Regions from separate parts of the Homo sapiens genome. Here region 2 is linked to region 1. The links come from fine-mapping of genetic effects on gene expression. A gene starts in region 1. The other region holds a variant in brackets. All regions are shown on one strand. Distances are from middle to middle.

Evidence for each region. PIP is the estimated chance that this variant, and not a neighbour inherited with it, causes the effect. A credible set is the group of variants that fine-mapping cannot tell apart.
Region 2: its variant is the best candidate, but not a certain one, in a credible set for the expression of PLXNA3 in esophagus mucosa (GTEx, PIP 0.51).

What each region holds. Positions count from the first base shown.
Region 1 is chrX:154,455,673-154,460,050 of GRCh38, reverse strand. PLXNA3 (plexin A3) reads right to left here and starts at 1,770. Exons shown (of 33, transcript NM_017514.5): 1 at 1,623-1,770. RefSeq lists enhancers at 315-867, 2,293-2,362 and silencers at 1,353-1,422, 1,663-1,902, 2,033-2,202.
Region 2 is chrX:154,500,133-154,504,510 of GRCh38, reverse strand. No RefSeq gene overlaps it. Among named protein-coding and RNA genes, the nearest start is that of SLC10A3, 12 kb to the right of the region's middle. The variant G/T (reference allele first, on the strand shown) is at 1,673.

The sequences.
Region 1 (4,378 bases):
AGGAGGGGCCTCCGCCAGGGCGCATGAGTGAGCAGCCAGCGAGGGCAGGCTTGGGGGCCATCAATCGTCCCTCAGCCCCCATGCTGGAAAGGAGCCAGGAGGCCTCGCCTCAGCTGGGCCACACCCAAGGGGGTAGCAGAGCAGATGCTGGAACTGGGACCCCAGATGCCACATCTCAGAGCCCGGGGCAACCAACAGCAAAGAACAGCAAGCCCCAGGCCTCTGGGCTGCCCCCAACGCCTGAGCTGAGGGGAGAGGGAGGCAGGCACAGAATAATCGCAAGCTGGGGGAGAGGGGCAGGGCCAGGAACACCACCTGGAGTGGCACTGCCACCAGGAGCCCTGGGACAGAGGTCTGGGGAATGGAGGCCTGATGCAGGATCCAGCACCACCATGTCCCCTGCAGGGGCCCCAGCTGCCTCCCCGACAAGGGCCTCAGCTGGCCATCCAGGAGCCCGCTGTCTGGCCTCCCCGATGCAACACAAAGCCAAGTCGCGCCTGCCCCTCAGCCACGCACCCAGACACACATCAGTCAAGCTCTGCTCAGCCACAGCCTGCATGGCTCCCCCTCCAGACCCAGGGGTTCACTGGAGAAGGGAATGTACAGGGGGCCCTACCTGCCCTTTGGAGTCCCAGGAGCCTTACAAGAGGAGGAGCAATGTCCCCAAATACAGTCAAGGCCTTGGAGAGACAGGGCAGGAGCCACAGGGACAGTGCTGGGACTGGCACTTAGTCCCCAGGCCACACCCAGTCAGCCCCAGGCTGCTAAGACAGCAGAGCAGTGTCGTGGCAGCCAACAGGGCAGGGCTCAGCGCTACCCTCTCAGTGCCAGAGCTCCCGGGGGAGATAGGAGGTACCCAGCTTGAGGGCGGGAGGCGGGGGGGGAGCGGGGGGTGGTGCAGGGAACCAAACCAAGGAGGCACAGGAGAGAGAAAGGAAAAATAAGGCATTTGCCAGGAACAAGCAGCGGGCCCAGCTTGAAACTGCAAAGTTTCAGCTCAGATTGATCACCTCTCCAGGGCTCTTTTGTCAGCTGGACCCCTCATGCAACAGCCGGAGAAGAAAGGAAGGCCAAAGAAAAGAGAGGCCACATCCTGTCTTCACCTCCTCTACACCCCGGGAACACAAGCCTAGGAACAGGCTGGGGACAGGTCGGGAGGGAGACCTGGGGAGGCAGTTTCAGGCCCAGCCCCCACCTGTAAGTGGCAACCTCGGGCATCACAGGTACAGCTGGGCCAGCAGAGAGCCTGAGGAAGGGGCAGCCCCACGCAGAGACGGGGGTCCAGCGGCCGCCCCCCACACCCCCCACCGTGCTGCTGGTCCGGTTTGCCCGGGCCCCATCAGGGCACCCCTCGGCGGACTCGCGGAGCCCTTAGCGGGAGGGAAGTACAGCGTTGATCCTCCGAGGGGCCGCTCCCCTGCGACAAAGGGTCCTCTTTGGGCAGGGTGTTGGTCTTGGGTTGGCGTCCCCACCATGCGGGGCACAAGGAGTCGGGCAGGCCGGCGCCGACGGGCAGGGATAGGGCCTGACCCCCACAGGCCGAGCCGGACCCCCGGGCTGCCGGAGCCCCGGGCCCCGAGCTGTTTGGCCCCGCACGGACGGCGACGATGACGGCCACCTACCTGTCCCTCCGCTGGCTCCGGGTGGCCGCCCTCTGGCCACGTGGACGCGCCCCCGAGCCCCACCGCGGCCCCGCTCGCACGTCCCCACGGCCTCGCCCCGCGCCCCGGGCCCCAAGCGCGCAGCCGCCGCCGCCGCCGCCCACACACTGGGCTGGCCCGGGGGCCGCCGGAGCCTTTTAAACCCGGACCGTACCACCGCGCGGGGCGGGGGCGTCCGGGGACGCCCGGCCGAGGGGGACGCGGCGGCAGGGGACGCAGGCGGGGCCGCTGCTCCCCGGGGCCAGGGACCTCGCGCGCAGCCCTGACCCCCGCGACCTGAAGGGGGACCCGCCCGGCCAGCCGACCCCCTTCGCTCGATGGCCGCGTCCGCGGCGCGCGCCTCCCCCGCGCCCCGGCTCCCCGCCCGCCGCCTCGGGCGACCCCGGAACCCGCGCGCGCCCGCGCCACACCCCCTCGGGCCTGGGGCGCGCGTCCGCCTCGCCCCACCCTGGCGCTCGGAGACGCGCCCGGGGTCACCTGCCACCGGGGCGCGGCCTCGCTGGTCCCGGCCTCTCAGGTGCACCCCCGCCGAGGAGTCGCGTCCCCAGCTCAAGACACGCCCCCGACGGTCTCTAACCCGGAGGGCCTGCGGGACAGCCGTCCAAACCAGCCCCTTCCCCGGCGACCCTGAACCGAGGGCTTTCTTCCTTCCCTTGCTTTCTTTTTCCTTTTCTTTTTTTGTTTTCTTTTGACACAGGGTCTCGCTCTGTCACCCGGGCTGGAGTGCAGTGGTGAGATCATAGCTCACTGCAGCCTCGACCGCCCCAGGCTCAAACGATGCTCCCGCCTCAGCCTCCCAAAGTGCTGGGACTACAGGTGTGAGCCACCGCGCCCCGTTAAGGTTTTCTTTTTCATTTCCCTGATGACTAATGGTGTTCAGCATCTTTTCATGTGCTTGCTGGCCTTTTGTATATGATCTCTGAAGAAATGTCTATTCAAGTCATTTGCCCATTTTTATTAAACACATATATGGAGAGATAGATAGATAGACAGATTTTTCCCCCCAAGTTGAGGTCGCGCTCTATCACCCAGGCTGCAGTGTAGCGGCATTGGATCATGGCTCACTGCAGCCTCGACTTCCTGGGCTCAAGGGATCCTCCTGCCTCAGCCTCCCAGGTAGCTGGGACCACAGGCAAGTGCCACCACGCCTGGCTAACTTTTCCTATTCTTGTAGAGAGAGACAGGGTCTTGCTACACTGCCCAGGCTAGTCTTGAACTCCTGGGCTTAAGTAATCCTCCTGCCTCAGCCTTCCAAAGTACTGGCATATGCTGGGTGCAGTGACTCAAGCCTGTAATCCCAGCATTTTGGAAGGCTGAAGTGAGCGGATCACCTGAGGTCAGGAGTTCGAGACCAGCCTGGCCAACATGGCAAAACCCCATCTCTACAAAAAATACAAAAATTAGCCGGACATGGTGTCATATGCCTGTAGTCCCAGCTACTCAGGAGGCTGAAGCAGGAGAATTTTTTTTTTTTTTTTTTTTTTTTTTAGACAAAGTCTTGCTCTGTCGCCAAGGCTGGAGTGCAGTGGTGTGACCTCGGCTCACTGCAAGCTCCGCCTCCCGGGTTCACGCCATTCTCCTGTCTCAGCCTCCCAAGTAGCTGGGACTACAGGCACTCGCCACCACGCCCGGCTAATTTTTTTGTATTTTTGGTAGAGACGAGGTTTCACCGTGTTAGCCAGGATGGTCTCGATCTCCTGACCTTGTGATCCGCCCATCTCGGCCTCCCAAAGTGCTGGGATTACAGGCGTGAGCCACCGCGCCCGGCCGAGAATCTCTTGAACCTGGGAGGGGGAGGTTGCAGTGAGCCAAGATCGTGCCATTGCACTCCAGCCTGGGAGATAGAGCAAGACTCTGTCTAAAAAAAAAAAAGCACTGAGATTATAGGCATGAGCCACCATGCCTGGCCCTCAACTGACTTTAAGTAAAAGAGATCACCCTTGATAATGTGTGTGGGCCTCATCCATTTAGTTGGATGGCTTTAAGAGCAAAACCCGAGGTTTCCTGGAGAAGCAGAAATTCTGCCTCAAGACTGTAACACAGGCCAGGCGCGGTGGCTCATGTCTGTCATCCCAGCACTTTGGGAGGCCAAGGCAGGCGGATCGCCTGAGGTCAGGAGTTCGAGACCAGCCTGACCAACGTGATGAAACCCCGTCTCTACTAAAAATACAAAAATTAGTTGGGCATGGTGGCGGGCATCTGTAATCCCAGCTACTCGGGAAGCTGAGGCAGGAGAATCGCTTGAACCCAGGAGGCAGTGGTTGCAGTGAGCTGATATCATGCCACTGCACTCCAGCCTGGGCGACAAGAGTGAGACTCCATCTCAACAACAACAACAACAAGACTGTAACACAGAAATTCTCCGAGTTTCCAGCCCGTCAGTCTGTCCTACAAATTTCACACCAACTTGTCAGCCCCGACAATTGGGTGAACCAAATCCTTAAAATAAACTGTGTGTGTGTGTGTCCTGTTGGTTCTGTTTCTCTGGAGAACCATGACTAATACAGATGTCTTTCCATTTATTTAGGTCTTCTTGAATTTCTTTCAATGATGTTTTGTACTTTTCAGTGTACAAATCTCATGCTTCTTTTAAAAAAATCTATTAATAAGTATTTTATTCTTTTTTGACACTGTTATAAATGGAATTATTTTCTTAATTTCATTTTGGATTGTGTATAGAAATACAATTGATTGGCCAGGTGTGGTGGCTCATGCCT
Region 2 (4,378 bases), 44 kb before region 1:
AAAAAAAATACAGTGTAGGCTGGCACGGTGGCTCATGCCCTATAACCCAGCCTTCGGGAGGCCAAAGTGGGCAGATCACTTGAGCCCAAGCATTCAAGACCAGCCTAGGCAAAATAGCGAGACCCCATCTCTACAAAAAAATAAAATTAGCCAGTCGTGGTGACACACATCTGTAGTCCCAGCTACTTGAGAGACTGAGACAGGATTACTTGAGCCCAGGAGGTCAAGGATGCAGTGAGCCAAGATCACACCACTGCACTTCAGCCTGGGCAACAGAGTGAGATCCTATCAAAAAAAAAACACACACACACAATACAGTGTAATTGTTATTTGCAGAGCATTTACATTGTATTAAGCATGATAAATAATCTCAAGATGGTTTAGATTCTATGGGACCAGGCTTGGTGGCTCATGTCTGTAATCCCAGCACTTACGGAGGTTGAAGCAGGCAGATTGCTGCAGTCCAGGAGGTTGAGGCTGCAGTGAGCCGTGATTGTGCCACTGCACTCCAGCCAGGGTGACAGAGCGAGACTTTGTCTCAAAAAAAAAAAAAAAAAAAAATCAGGCCGCGCACGGTGGCTCACACCTGTAATCCCAGCACTTTGGGAGACCGAGGTGGGCAGATAATCTGAAGTCGGGAGTTTCAGACCAGCCTAGCCAACATGGTAAAACCCTGTCTCTACTAAAAACACAAAAATTAGCCAGGCGTGCTGGCGCATGCCTGTGATCCCAGCTACTCGGGAGGCTGAGGCAGAATCACTTGAACCTGGGAGGTGGAGGTTGCAGTGAGCCGAGATCACGCCACTGCACTCCAGCCTGGACGACAGAGTGACACACCGTCTCAAAAAAAAAGAAAAAAGGGCTGGGCGCACAGTGGCTCACGCCTGTAATCCCAGCACTTTGAGAGGCCGAGGTGGGCGGATCACAAGGTCAGGAGATCAAGAGGTCAGGAGATCAAGACCATCCTGGCTAACACGGTGAAACCCCGTCTCTACTAAAAATACGAAAAATTAGCTGAGCATGGTGGCGGGCGCCTGTAGTCCCAGTTACTCGGGAGGCTGAAGCAGGAGAATCGCTTGAACCCGGGAGGCGGAGCTTACAGTGAGCTGAGATTGCACCACTGCCCTCCAGCCTGGGTGACAGAGCGAGACTCCATCTCAAAAGAAAAAAAAATCTATGGGAATAAATATGTATAACTATAATGTATCCATTTTATATCAGGGACTTGAGCATCCCTGGACTTTGGCAGCTATAGGGTGCCCTGGAACAAATACCTATCGGATACCAACAGATGACTGTCATCAACTCTGATGTGCTCATCCCTCTAGTGATCGACATGTGACCAGTGCTGTCTCATCTGTACCCACATGGTCCCATATGTTGATACAAATCTCAACTTCCTTCTTGCATCAATACCTCAGTTATACCATAGGTAACACCTCACCACAACCCTAGCCAGTAAGTGTGGCCATTGTCCCCACTGTACAAAAAAGTAAAGGTCCCTAGTGGGGATAGGAGAGTTCCCGGTGTAGCAAGACTACAAGCCAGATAAGTACAATTCCACGAGGTTACTAGCTTGCCCCTAAATGAAACGGAAACTCACGGAGTGTCTATACTGCCAGGCTGGGAGGGGCTTGGGCTCCCCGACACTTCTCCAGCAACTGCTGTGATT[G/T]CCCAGCCTTCCTCCATTTGTTCCTTCAGCTCATTTGTTCACTAAACATTCACCAAGTGCCTGAACTGGTCCAGGAACACCGTAGTGAGCCACAGTGACAGCCTCTACCTCTTCATGGGGCTGCACCCTCACTGGGGTCACCAGTGTCACAGCCCAACACAGGCTAGGAAGCTGATGGCATGGAGCACAGCCTGCCTGACTTCCCAAAGAGGAGGTAAGCTTGACATATCCCACGGTCCTGTTTTGCCAGGGGTATCGCCCCCTGGGCCTGCCCTTTAGGAGTTAGGATGTCCTCACTTACAATGCCAGAATTCAAACTCAAACTGGCATAAGCAAAAAAAAAAAAAAAAAAAAAGGGAGGATGGCAGAATGCATTGTTCCTGTAATGGACCCCGAAGCCCAAGGGACTTGGGCTCTCTCCACCTCTTGGCTTTGTTTTTCTCTCTGTATTGGCTTCATTTTCCAACATGGCAGCCTTCCTTGCCATGACAGTTGTCAGAATCAAAATGGAGTCACTTGTGTTAAAAAACAAAAAACAGAGCTGGGGAAGGCTGCAAATGCAGAAACCACAGCTTTCCACAGAAAAAAAATACTGCAAGGACATCTGCCCAGCAACTTTTTGAGACGGAGTTTCGCTCTTGTTACCCAGGCTGAAGCGCAGTGGCGCAATCTCGGCTCACTGCAACCTCCGCCTCCTGGGTTCAAGCGATTCTGCCTCAGCCTCCCAAGTAGCTGGGATTGCAGGTGTGCACCACCACACCCAGCTAATTTTTGTATTTTTAGTAGAGACACGGTTTCACCATGTTGGCCAGGCTGGTCTTGAACTCCTGACTTCAAGTGATCCACCTGCCTCAGCCTCCCAAAGTGCTGGGATTAAAGGCGTGAGCTACCGTGCCCGGCTGACTTTTTTTTTTTTTTTTTTCTGAAACGGAGTCTGGATCAGTCACCCAGGCTGGAGTATAGTGGCACAATCTTGGCTCACCACAACCTCCGCCTCCTAGGTTCAAGCGATTCTCCTGCCTCAGCCTCCTGAGTAGCTGGGATCACAGGCATGCGCTACCACGCCTGGCTCATTTTTGTGTTTTTAGTAGAGACAGGGTTTTACCTTGTTGGCCAGGCTGCTCTTGAACTCCTGACCTCAGGTGATCCACCCGCCTCAGCCTCCCAAAGTGCTAGGATTATAGGCGTGAGTCACCGCACCCAGCTGAGCAACTTAACCCTAACCCTGTCCAACCTCATACTGAGGTCACCCTTGTTATCGATCCTTGTAGCCAAGGAGAATTCTCTCAAAACAATTAGGTGATCCTCTTCACTTTTCCTTGAAAAACCTTTGCCTTCTTTTGCCTCCCTGTATATGCACACAGTTTACCATACAGTTTACCATGGCACATGCATTCCCACTGCAACGCATTCCAGAATAAATATCATTTTCTCTCAGAGAGCCTGTTATTTAGGATGACATAACTAGAGTCAGAAGTGGGACCTACAGCTGGGCGTGGTGGCTCACACCTGTCATCCCAGCACTTGAGAGTCCAAGGCAGGAGGATCACTTGAGCCCAGGAATTTGACACCATCCTGGGCAACACAGCAAGACCCTGTCTCTAAAAAAAAAAAAAAAAATTAATTAGCCAGGTGTGGTGGTGCACACCTGTAGTCCCAGCTACTAGGGAGGCTGAGGTGGGAGGATGGCTTGAGCCCAGGGGTCAAGGCTGTCTCAGAAAAAAAAAAAAGAAAGAAAGAAAGAAAAAAGAAAAGAAAAGAAAAAAAAAATAAGTGAGACCCGAAACAAAATCACCTTTAAAAGGAATTGGGGCTGGGCACGGTGGCTCATGCCTGTTATCCCAGCACTTTTGGAGGCCAAGACAGGAGGATTATTTGAGCCCAGGAATTCAAGGCCAGCCTGGGAAACAGAGTGAGACCCTGTTTCAAAAAAATAAAATTAAAATAAAAAATAAAATTAAATAAATAAAACTAAAACACTGGTATGTAGAGGCGCCTAACTTCTCTATCTGCTTTTCTTTTCTTCCTCCTCTCTGCTGACTCTGTTGGCTTTTTCTTCTTCTTCTTCTTTTTTTTTTTTTTGAGGCGGAGTCTTGCTCTGTCACCAGGCTGGCACGATCTCGGCAACCTCTGCCTCCCGGGTTCAAGGAATTCCACTGCCTTAGCGTCCCGAGTAGCTGGGACTACAGGCATGCGCCACCATGCCTGGCTAATTTTTTGTATTTTATCATGTTGGCCAGGATGGTCTCGATCTCCTGACCTCATGATCTGCCTGCCTCGGCCTCCCAAAGTGCTGGGATTACAGGTGTGAACCACCGCACCTGGCCTTTTTCTTCTTTTTTTTTTTTTTTTTTTTTGAGACAGGGTCTCACTCTGCCACCCAGGCTGGAGTGCAGTGGTGCAGTCTCAGCTCACTGCAGCCTCAACCTCCTGGGCTCAAGCGATCCTCCCACCTCAGCCTCCCAAGGAGTTGGGAACACAGGCACCTGCCACCACGCCTGGCTAATTTTTGTAGAGATGGGGTTTCATCATGTTGTTCAGGCTGGTCTCTATCTCCTGAGCTCACATGATCCACTCATCTTGGCCTCTCAAAGTGCTAGAATTACAGGCGTGGCCACCGTGCCCAGCCAGCTTCTTCACTTGTATTAAGATAATTGTATTAAGATAATTTCACCCTGGGCAACCTGATCAGACCCCAACCCTACA